3 linked regions of the Homo sapiens genome follow. The protein of the gene in region 3 purifies or fractionates together with the protein of the main gene of each other region. This does not show direct contact. Each region holds a gene or a part of one and is shown on either strand. Other genes may lie near its edges.

The links.
Region 1: the proteins of SLC29A2 (region 3) and ADGRG2 purify together in Homo sapiens (affinity purification with mass spectrometry; one large-scale study listed by BioGRID and IntAct). This does not show direct contact.
Region 2: the proteins of SLC29A2 (region 3) and CAP1 purify together in Homo sapiens (affinity purification with mass spectrometry; one large-scale study listed by BioGRID and IntAct). This does not show direct contact.

The regions. Positions count from the first base shown.
Region 1 is NC_000023.11:18,991,123-18,993,608, forward strand, and holds part of ADGRG2 (adhesion G-protein coupled receptor G2 isoform 1 precursor), read right to left. Parts: intron 1-2,486. UniProt on the Homo sapiens protein: Adhesion G-protein coupled receptor (aGPCR) for steroid hormones, such as dehydroepiandrosterone (DHEA; also named 3beta-hydroxyandrost-5-en-17-one) and androstenedione.
Region 2 is NC_000001.11:40,061,175-40,064,829, forward strand, and holds part of CAP1 (adenylyl cyclase-associated protein 1), read left to right. Parts: intron 1-560; coding exon 561-638; intron 639-3,052; coding exon 3,053-3,196; intron 3,197-3,299; coding exon 3,300-3,385; intron 3,386-3,655. UniProt on the Homo sapiens protein: Directly regulates filament dynamics and has been implicated in a number of complex developmental and morphological processes, including mRNA localization and the establishment of cell polarity.
Region 3 is NC_000011.10:66,365,273-66,368,797, forward strand, and holds part of SLC29A2 (equilibrative nucleoside transporter 2), read right to left. Parts: intron 3,400-3,525; coding exon 3,265-3,399; intron 2,598-3,264; coding exon 2,500-2,597; intron 2,277-2,499; coding exon 2,192-2,276; intron 1,293-2,191; coding exon 1,159-1,292; coding exon of another isoform or gene 960-1,158; coding exon 854-959; intron 750-853; coding exon 664-749; intron 1-663. UniProt on the Homo sapiens protein: Bidirectional uniporter involved in the facilitative transport of nucleosides and nucleobases, and contributes to maintaining their cellular homeostasis. Functions as a Na(+)-independent, passive transporter.

The sequences.
Region 1 (2,486 bases), on a different chromosome or scaffold from region 3:
TGCTTTATTCTTAAAGATGTATTTGTAAAATATGTTTTTAAAAACATTTGTGATATATGTTCATATTTTATTTATTTTTCATTACTTCCCTAAGGCCACTCAAAGTAAGCATACCAAAGTGGAGATTGCTTCAGAAACCAGTTCTCTATGGCAGTTTTTTTTTTGTTTGGTTTTTAATGAAACAGTCAAAATCTGAAGCAAGGTAATATATTAATAAAAGGCCCACTTCCTAACTCTGGTTGGATATGTTTTGACTTCAAGTAGCAGCATATGTATAATATAAGCTAAGGTAATACTTTGGTCTCCCAAAAGGTTAATGTTAACAGAGATCCCCATATGTACCCTTAGGAAGTTCTTGGTTCCCTAGGTTCCTATAAAATGAAACTTTGTACCAGAGAAACCAGAGCAACCAGCTACAACAGTCATGGCAAGAAGAAATCATCTCTCTTGTAGATTAAACCAGCTCCTCTGACTAAATCAGGACAGGACAAATTCCCAAGAGGAAACTACCAATTCCAACTTCAGAGTCCAGGCCAGGGAGCAGCTGGGCACTCAAGGGTAACTGTTGGTTTGGACGTGGGCCTTCCCCACCCCAAGCAGGCCCTGAGTTATAGGGGAGCACAGGTGCTGGCCTCCTCTAGTTACTTGGCACCATCCTTCTGATCATTAGACCATTGGGAGACTATACACAAAGCTGAATAATAAGCCCATTTGATAGTTCATGACATGATTATGATAACAATGATCATAACAGTACTGGGACACTTTATTATCTCATTTAGAGCCCTGCAGGGTGGGTACTACTGTTATCCCCATTTTGCAGATGAGGAAACGAAGGTTTCAGAAATTAAGTGCTCTCCCCAAGGTCACACAGCTCAGAAGTAATGGAGTTGACGTGTGATGTTGCTTCCAAACTGTGATCCTTGTGGTCCTGGGTACCAAATGAGATGGCTGCTGGTACCCCACCCTCTAAGGCAGCTCAGAACTGAACTGTGTAATATTCATGCAAACTAGGTGATGAATATGGTTAACGTAGCTCCATCTGTGACACAGATCAAATAGGGCATGTGACTGTCTGAGGCAGCTGTTTGGATTTAGGCATTTCGGCTTGAGGACATTTTGGTGCAAGAACAATTTGGTCTGGCATAATAAATCATTAAACTTCTAGCTTTTTTTGTTGTTGTTGAGACGGAGTCTCGTTCTGTCGCCCATGCTGGAGTGCAGTGGTGAGATCTAGGCTCACTGCAACTTCTGTCTCCTGGGTTCAAGCGATTCTCCTGCCTCAGCTTCCTGAGTAGCTGGGACTACAGGTGTGTGCCACCACGTCTGGTTGATTTTCACATTTTTTATTAGAGATGGAGTTTTTCCATGTTGGCCAGGCTGGTCTTGAACTCCTGACCTCAGGTGATCCTCCTAACTTAGCCTCCCAAAGTGCTGGGATTACAGGTGTGAGCCACTGCGCCCAGCCCTAGCTTTCTTTTTTGAAATTGCCAATTCCATTCCTCATCTATCCCAGATGCTGGGGCAAGGACTGAGGAGTCAGGAATGGTTATCTGACATGCATATTATGTGATATTAAACACTGAGCCATTTTGGCAGCCTTAAAATGTACCCCCATCCTCACCGTCAAGCATCAAAAGTAGCTGTGTCAAATCAGCTGTGTTAAACAACTGTGGTAAAATGTGCTGTTTCCATGAAATCTGATTTCCCAAAGGATGACAACATGTTGATAGAGCTAGGCAGGTGAGGCTTCATCTCTGAGCTCTTTCGAGAATATGGACAAATCTGGTTTATGGATTCAGAGCCCCAGATGACCCTGCTCGCTCCTTTGATGTCTCTCCTTTCAATTTGCTTTCTCACACTAACGTACTAACCAGCTGTGCTCCCCGCTGCCTCGCCTCTGTTTACCTACATTGAATCATTCCTGATAGAGCTATTTGGTGTAGAGCCCAGAGCTTGCTTTCTGGTATCGACAGTAAAGAGCTAAGGCTATACAACAGTTATTTCTCATCTTTTACAGCAGTGATTCTCAACTGGGGGCAATCTTGCTCCCTTCTTCTCCCCGCTCCCCTGGGACAGTTGGCAGTGTCTGGGGACATTTTGGGTTGTCATAACTGGGGGCAGGGTGCTACTGGCTCTAGTTGATAGAGTCCAGGGATCCTGCTAAATGTCCTGCAATTCCACAAAAAAGAATTATCCAGCCCCAAAATGTCAATTGTGCTTGAAGTTGAGAAACCTTGATTTTGAGGCATCCTATGGTATTTTAAAAGCCTAGACAGGCCGGGCACAGTGGCTCACACCTGTAATCCCAGCACTTTGGGAGGCTGAGGCGGGAGGATCACTTGAGCCCAGGAGTTTGAGACCAACCTGGACAACACAGCAAGACTGCATCTTAAAAAAAAAAAAAAATTAGCCAGCCATGGTGGCATGCTCCTACAGTCCCAGCTACTCGGGTGGCTGAGGTGGGAGGATCACTTGAGCCTGGG
Region 2 (3,655 bases), on a different chromosome or scaffold from region 3:
TTTATTTGGAAATAACTTGAAGTTGGTGCACTGCACTCATACTTTTGTTCCATTAAGCTCACTAAATTGATTTAATTATTTATTAATGGGTCATGGTATCTGGCATTTGAGAGATAGCTTTAATCTAAAGGAGTAAATACCTTGAGAATTTTCAGCAGAAATTTAGGCCTTTGCCTTTACTCCTGTCTCCAATTTTTGAGAAAAGAAAGGTGTTTTTTTGGTTGCTGTTTGTTTTATTTTGCTGATGTGAAATAGGAAGGATTTTTCAGTGCACGGTATCACAATGCATGTGTAAGATGCTAACATGACTTCATGTAAGCTAGGTGATTATCCAATTAACTTCACTTCCAACTCTGGATATATATCCCTGATGAGTTCCAATAGGAACAGTAGTGTATGTAATTCTGCTCTCAGTCCCTGGAATCTGGAATACATGAGGAGGATAACATGAAGTGCCTGGGTTGCTATCAGAGTACATGGAAGTAGAGGTTTCAGGTTATTCTTATCAAGACTTCTCTAGTTATAATGTGTCATCAATAGCTGATTCTTCTTTCTGGCAGGCGGAGATGGTCCACACAGGTTTGAAGTTGGAGCGAGCTCTGTTGGTTACAGCTTCTCAGTGTCAACAGCCAGCAGAAGTAAGTTCACTACTAGCTGGTTTCATTTTGGTTTGATGCTCAGGACGAGTTGAGAGATTTATGTCAAGCTATTATAACATTTTAAAATAGACCTACTAGGCTTTTGATAATATATGTTCATACCAAGTCCCAGAGGTAGAGCCATACTTCAAGTGCCTTAATGGGAAGGTACTATTGGGTACTTAATGGTCTCTACTGGCTTTTTCTCTGTCATTTTGCATAGGACTGTGGTTATCCCTGGGACTTTGCTTGCCTGCCTCTTTGCTGAGTCCACATTCATCATAGTGTCTCCAAAGCCCTTTAAAGATGATTCTCTTGCTTCACTGTGGATGGGCTTTAGTAGTGCTCCTGTGGAGATCTTAAAACTCCTACAGTATTGCTTCTCTCCTCATCCTTCACTGGTTGGGAGACTCTCTCTTTAATTTTACTCCCACCTCAAAATTTTATGGTGCAAGATGTGAAAAGTTGAATTAGAGAAAATTTAGATTTCTCTTGGAGTCAAAGAATATAGGTTTCCTTCTTTTGCATTTGGTTTTCCTAGTTACAGAGGAATAATAAAGCAAGTTGTCCTAAATGCTGTATTAAAACCCTTGACCCTCAGCATGCCTAGATAATATAAAAATAGTGCAAGATAATGTCAAATATATTAGATTCTGGTTAAGTGTGCTGGCTCATTCCTGTAATCCCAGCACTTTGGGAGGCTGAGGCAGGAGGATCACTTGAGGCCAGGAGTTTGAGACCAGCCTGGGCAACATAGCAAGACCTCGTCTCTATTAAAAATTAAAAAAATAAAATAAATAAAAATAGCCAGGCAAGGTGGTGCATGCGTATAGTCCCAGCTACTTGAGAGGCTGAAATGGGAGGAAGATTTGGGCCTGAAAGTTTGAGGATGCAGTGAGCCATGAACACACCACTGCACTCCAGCCTGGGCGACAGAGCAAGACCTTCTCTCAAAAAACATTGTGTGTGTGTGTGTGTGTGTGTGTATAGATGCCATCTAATTCTAATATGTAGAATTAGATTTTAATTCTTAATCTGTCCTGAATGGTTAAGATCTGAGAATTGAGATGTTCAGGAAATGGAGCTTTGGAGGAAGGGTGCAAACACAAACAAAATTCATCCATTTTGCCAAGGTGCCTACTTGAATGCTAAGCCCCTAATTGTTTTTTATTTTATTTATGTTTAAAAAAAAATTTTTTTTTTGAGACAGGGTGTTGTTTTGTCACCCAGACTGGAGGGTAGTGGTGCAATCACAGCTCACTGAAGCCTTGACCTCCCAGGTGTAATGATCCTCCCACCTCAGCCTCCTGAGTAGCCTTGACTACAGTGTGCACCACCATGCCTGGCTTGCTTATTTACTTACTTATTTATTTATTTATTTCTGAGATGGAGTTTCTCTCTGTCGCCCAGGCTGGAGTGCAGTGGCAGGATCTCGGCTCACTGAAACCTCCACCTCCCAGGCTCAAGTGATTCTCCCACCTCAGCCTCCTGAATAGCTGGGACTACAGGCATGCGCCACCATGCCCAGCTGATTTTTGTATTTTTATAGAGATGGGGTTTCCCCATGTTGCCCAGGCTGATCTTAAACTCCTGGACTCAAGCGATCTGCCCACCTTGGCCTCCCAAAGTGCTGGGATTACAGGCGTGAGCCACCATGCCTGGCCCTAATTCTTTTTATTATTTGTAGAGACAAAGTTGTGCTGTGTTGTTCAGTCTGTCTTGAACTCCTGGTCTCAAGCAGTTCTCCTGCCTTGGCCTCCCAAAGTGCTGGGATTACAGGCGTGGGTCACCATGCCCAGACTAAGCCCCCTAATTGCATTTGATTCATCAGTTCTTTACAGCAGCTACTATATGGCTGGCAATGCATTGGGGGCTTTCATGATGATAAAAGAGCTCGTCTTTGAAGAATTAATGAGAAAGTAAAACATATTCACATGGGTCCATTAATAGTTTGTATTGGTGAGTGATAAAATGCCAAGATTGGTTATGCTGACAACAAATGCTGTAGGAGGCTGGTGTGGCTGGGTTGGAGGGCCCTCATGAAGCATGAGGAAAATTTGGATTCATGGGAAAAAAAGAGAACATCATGAGTAAGGCACAGGAATGATGTCCTGAGTGTATGTCCTCTGAGTGGAACAAAAAAGAGACAGGTGGCTGAAATGGAGGTTCTGTGGTATAGCTGAAGTATGGGTCCTGATCATGAAGAACCATCAGGTGCAGCCTGAGGAGTTGGAACTCTACGAGGAGAGTGAGATGATGAGCAGTATTTTAGCCTTAGGAATCAGGACAGGACTCATGCAGTTTATTTGGGTGCTCACTAGAGTCCATAGAGAATTCTTGCCTTCAGGATCAGAAGGCATAGACACCTTTGTGGAAAGATGTTAACCTGAATCTTTTCTTGTATCTTTTCCTAGAATAAGCTTTCCGATTTGTTGGCACCCATCTCAGAGCAGATCAAAGAAGTGATAACCTTTCGGGAGAAGAACCGAGGCAGCAAGTTGTTTAATCACCTGTCAGCTGTCAGCGAAAGTATCCAGGCCCTGGGCTGGGTGGCTATGGTGAGCAGCGCAGATTCCAGGGCTGGGGGTGGGTATAGATTTTAAGAGGGAAGGCAATATAGTTGGAGAGGTCCTGAGTCACTGACAGCTTGTCTCTCTCTAGGCTCCCAAGCCTGGCCCTTATGTGAAAGAAATGAATGATGCCGCCATGTTTTATACAAACCGAGTCCTCAAAGAGTACAAAGATGTGTAAGTTCAGCCTTTTCTCTCTTTTTTTCTTTTCTGAGACAGTGTCTTGCGTTGTCACCCAGGCTGAAGTACAGTGGCACAATCACAGCTCATTGCAGCCTCAACCTCCCAGCTCAAACAATCCTCCCACCTCAGTCCTCCAAGTAGCTGGGACTTCAGGCACGCTCCACCATGCCTGGCTAATTTTCTAATTTTTTCGTAGAGATGAGGTCTCACTGTTTCCCAGGCTGGTCTCTAATGATTCTCCTGCCTTGGTCTCCCCAAAGTGCT
Region 3 (3,525 bases):
CCCCCTGACCTCCTCTGACCTGACCTACCTTGTGAGCCAGTGAGGGAGGACCCAGCACTGGGGCCTGGGCCAAGTCCACCCAGAAATCAGGGACTGGCCTGGGGCTCACCTCTGCCTCTCCCAGGCTCCAGCTTGTGCTCTCCACCGCATCTACAGTTTACGTACTCGGTTCCTCAGAGCACCCACTGGTGGTTCCACAGACCCCCTTGGGGGCAGATGGGGTTTCTGAGTGGGATTGGAAGCTGTAGATCAGCTCCTGTCCTGACTTGGATGAGACCAGCTCCTCTTTCACCTGCGTTATGTATTGTCTCTTTGGAAGATTTCATTTAAAGATACAGTACCATGGCTAAAACCAACCCCAAAACTAAGACTCTTGCTCAGTCCCTCACCTGGTGCAGGAACCTCCATGTAACATTCTCTGAGCAGCAAAGGCTGGATGCTGGGGACACAGAGGTCAGCTGGACATGATTTTTGCTTTCAGGGAGCTCACAGTGCAAGCCCTGGCCTGCACGCCTCCAGGGCCCAAGTGCTCCCTGCTGCTTGGCCAGTGGTTGCATTACCAGGCCATTTGGACTACCAGAAAATCACCTCCATGCTCTTTCAAGCCCTCGGATCCCAAACTGCTTCCTAAAACATCGGATCACCCAGCCCTGGTGTGCTTACCCACAGGAAGTAAGAGGTCAGGCTCCGTCCCAGCCAGTCCATGATGTTGAAGAGGAGGAAGCAGCAGATGGGGTTGAAGAACTGACCTGGGAGGGAAACGGCTGCAGCTCATACTGGTCTCCAACTCCCCTCTCCCGTCCTCTCCCCTTTGTACCCCCTGCCCTGCCGTCTTCTCCACCCTGACACTCACTCCACTTCCCAGGACTGGTGGAGCTGGTCACCATGGCTGTGATGGCGGGGAAGACGGACAGGGTGACTGTGAAGACCAACACAAGGCACAGCGCTGTCAGCCAGATCTGGGAGCCAGAGGCAGGGGTGTGAGCAGGCAGGGCAGTCCCAGGGCCCCACCCTCTTGCCCAAGCCCCATGTGGGAGCAGGACACTTGGGGCCTGGCCCAGCTGTGTCCCTGACCCACTGTGACCCTATGACCTTGGAGTCAATGTGAGCCCCATTCTTCCCCAAAGATGGTGGTTGGGGGCTGTATCCAAGCCAAACCTTCTGGAAGACAGTGAAGACTGAAGGTTTTCCTGGCTTCTGGGGCTCATCTGGCTCTGATTCCGGCTCCTTCTCCAGGTCAAGATCCAGGGTCAGAGCTACTTTCTGGGGACTACTGGGAATCCCGTTCTCATCTGGGGTGAGGGGGGACGGGGAAGGGTCATGCTTGTGACCCAGGTTTCCCGACAGCCAGGCCCAACGAAGGGAGATTCCCAGCAGTTAAAACAAGTGATCCTCAGCTCAGCATGGTGGCTCACGCCTGTAATCCCAACATTTTGGAAGGCCGAGGCGGGCATATTGCTTGAGCCCAGGAGTTCGAGACCAGCCTGGGCAACATGGTGAATCCCCATTTCTACAAAAATAAAAAAATTAGCCGGGCATGGCAGCCTGCACCTATAGTCCCAGCTACTCGGGAGACTGAGGTGGCTCACTTGAGCCCAGGAGGTCGAGGCTGCAGTTGAGTTGTGATAGCACTGCAGTGCAGCCTAGGTGACAGAGTGAGATCCTGACTCAAAATAACAACAACCCCCTCACCCCAAAACAAAAAAAGGTGATCTTCCTCCAGCCTAAGCTGAGGCTGCAGGCGAAGGGAATTCATGATGGAAATATGCATAGCTACCAGGAAGCGCGTGCATGGGTCGGGTGATGAGCGAAGCACCTTAGATGGATTATCTCATTACCATTGCTTTACAAATGACACATTGAGGTTCAGAGGGGTGCAGTGGCTAAGTGGTTTGTCTCAGGCCACACAGCTGGGATGTTGTGAAACTAGTATTCCAATTCAGAGGTCTTCGGATCCAAAGTTTGCATGCATGGAACCTCTGTCGCCTCCCCATTTTATAGAGGTGGAAACTGAGGCCCAAACAACAGCAGGGATGACTTTAATCCTACCAACTTCCCTTCATGATCTTCCTGTTTGCACAAGGCTACTAGGGGTGGGCTCTGGCTGGGAACAGATGGAACAGCTTCCCAGGGGAGGTGGCTCTAGCTTCCTCTGCATCTCCCACCTCCCCAGGAGGGTCTCAGGGCTTACCAGACTGGAGGAGCTCAGCTTTGGTCTCCAGCTCCTGAGCTTGGGCCTGGGATGATTTATTGGCCAGGTAGTAGCGGGCAAACTTCTGCAGAAGGACAGGAAAGTGTTGGGCCTGCCTGGCTTGCCTGAGGTGTCTGGATCCCTCCCCATACCATTGGCCTGGAGGCTGGGGCCCCTCAGTGTCTTCTCTGGGGGTCAGGGCTGAGACCAGGTCTCCTCCACCTCCCCTGGCCTCTCTCAGGGCCTCAGGCTCAGGACTCTATCCAAGATGCTTTGAGGTGGGGCCTCGAGCCCAACAGCAGGCTCACCAGGTGAGGCAGGCTCAGGTAACACACGATGGACATGAGGATGCCCACACAGGGCGTGATAAAGTACCCCAGGGCAGAGGTCTCGGCGTCCACGCCACCTGCGGAGGAACTTCAGCTGCAGAAGAGAGGCACCTGGTCCCGCCGGCTCCCACGGGGCTTCCAACTCTTGTCCCACTTCCCATTGTGTACTTCTCAGACCCACTCCCAGCCTCTTCCGCTCCTCCCTTCACTGACAAATGGGAATCTTGTACAGGGCCCCAGAGCAGCCCTGCACTTCTCTCACTTTCCCCATGTGTCATTTTTGTTGAGCACGTACTATGTGCCAGTAGCCTTCTCTCATTGCATGCTCATTACAATCTGAGCAGGGAGCTATACCAATCACGTCGGTGGGGAAGCTAGCACAGAGAGGTGACAAGCCTTGTCCAACACCCCTAGCTGGTAAGCGGTGAAGCAGATTCAAACCCAAGACTATCTGAATCCCAAACCCATCCCCTTATCCTTCAACTTCAACCTGCTGCCACATGCCAGTATTAGCCCCAGGAATCCTGCCCCTGTCCCTGAGTTAACCCAGTCCTCACTTGGTTATTACTCCTCACTGCAGGGCCCATGAGCCCCACTCCCTAGCCCCAGACCCAATCCCCATTTCCATATCACCTGCTTACCTCCATCTTCACCCAGAACCCATGTGTCTTGCTCTCACATGCCCTCTCTCTTCCCCAAACCTCAGAGGCCACCCCAGCCCTCCAGCCACCCAAGTGCACTCACTGGCCATGGACAGGAGCATGGCAAGGGCAGCAAAGATCCCAGCCAGGCCCTGGCCGCTGAGGAAGAGGGTGCTGTAGGTGGAGGGCATGGTGCCCAGCTGCCCGAAGAGGCTGCCCTGTAGGACTGCACTGAAGGCTGTGGAGGACAGGGATGGGGGCTGCTGCTCAACTAGGCAAGACTCAGAGGCTCCCTGGAGGAGGTGCCGGCAGGATACACAGGGGACTCTGGACAAGGTTGCGCAGGTGTGAGCTTCCCTAGGGA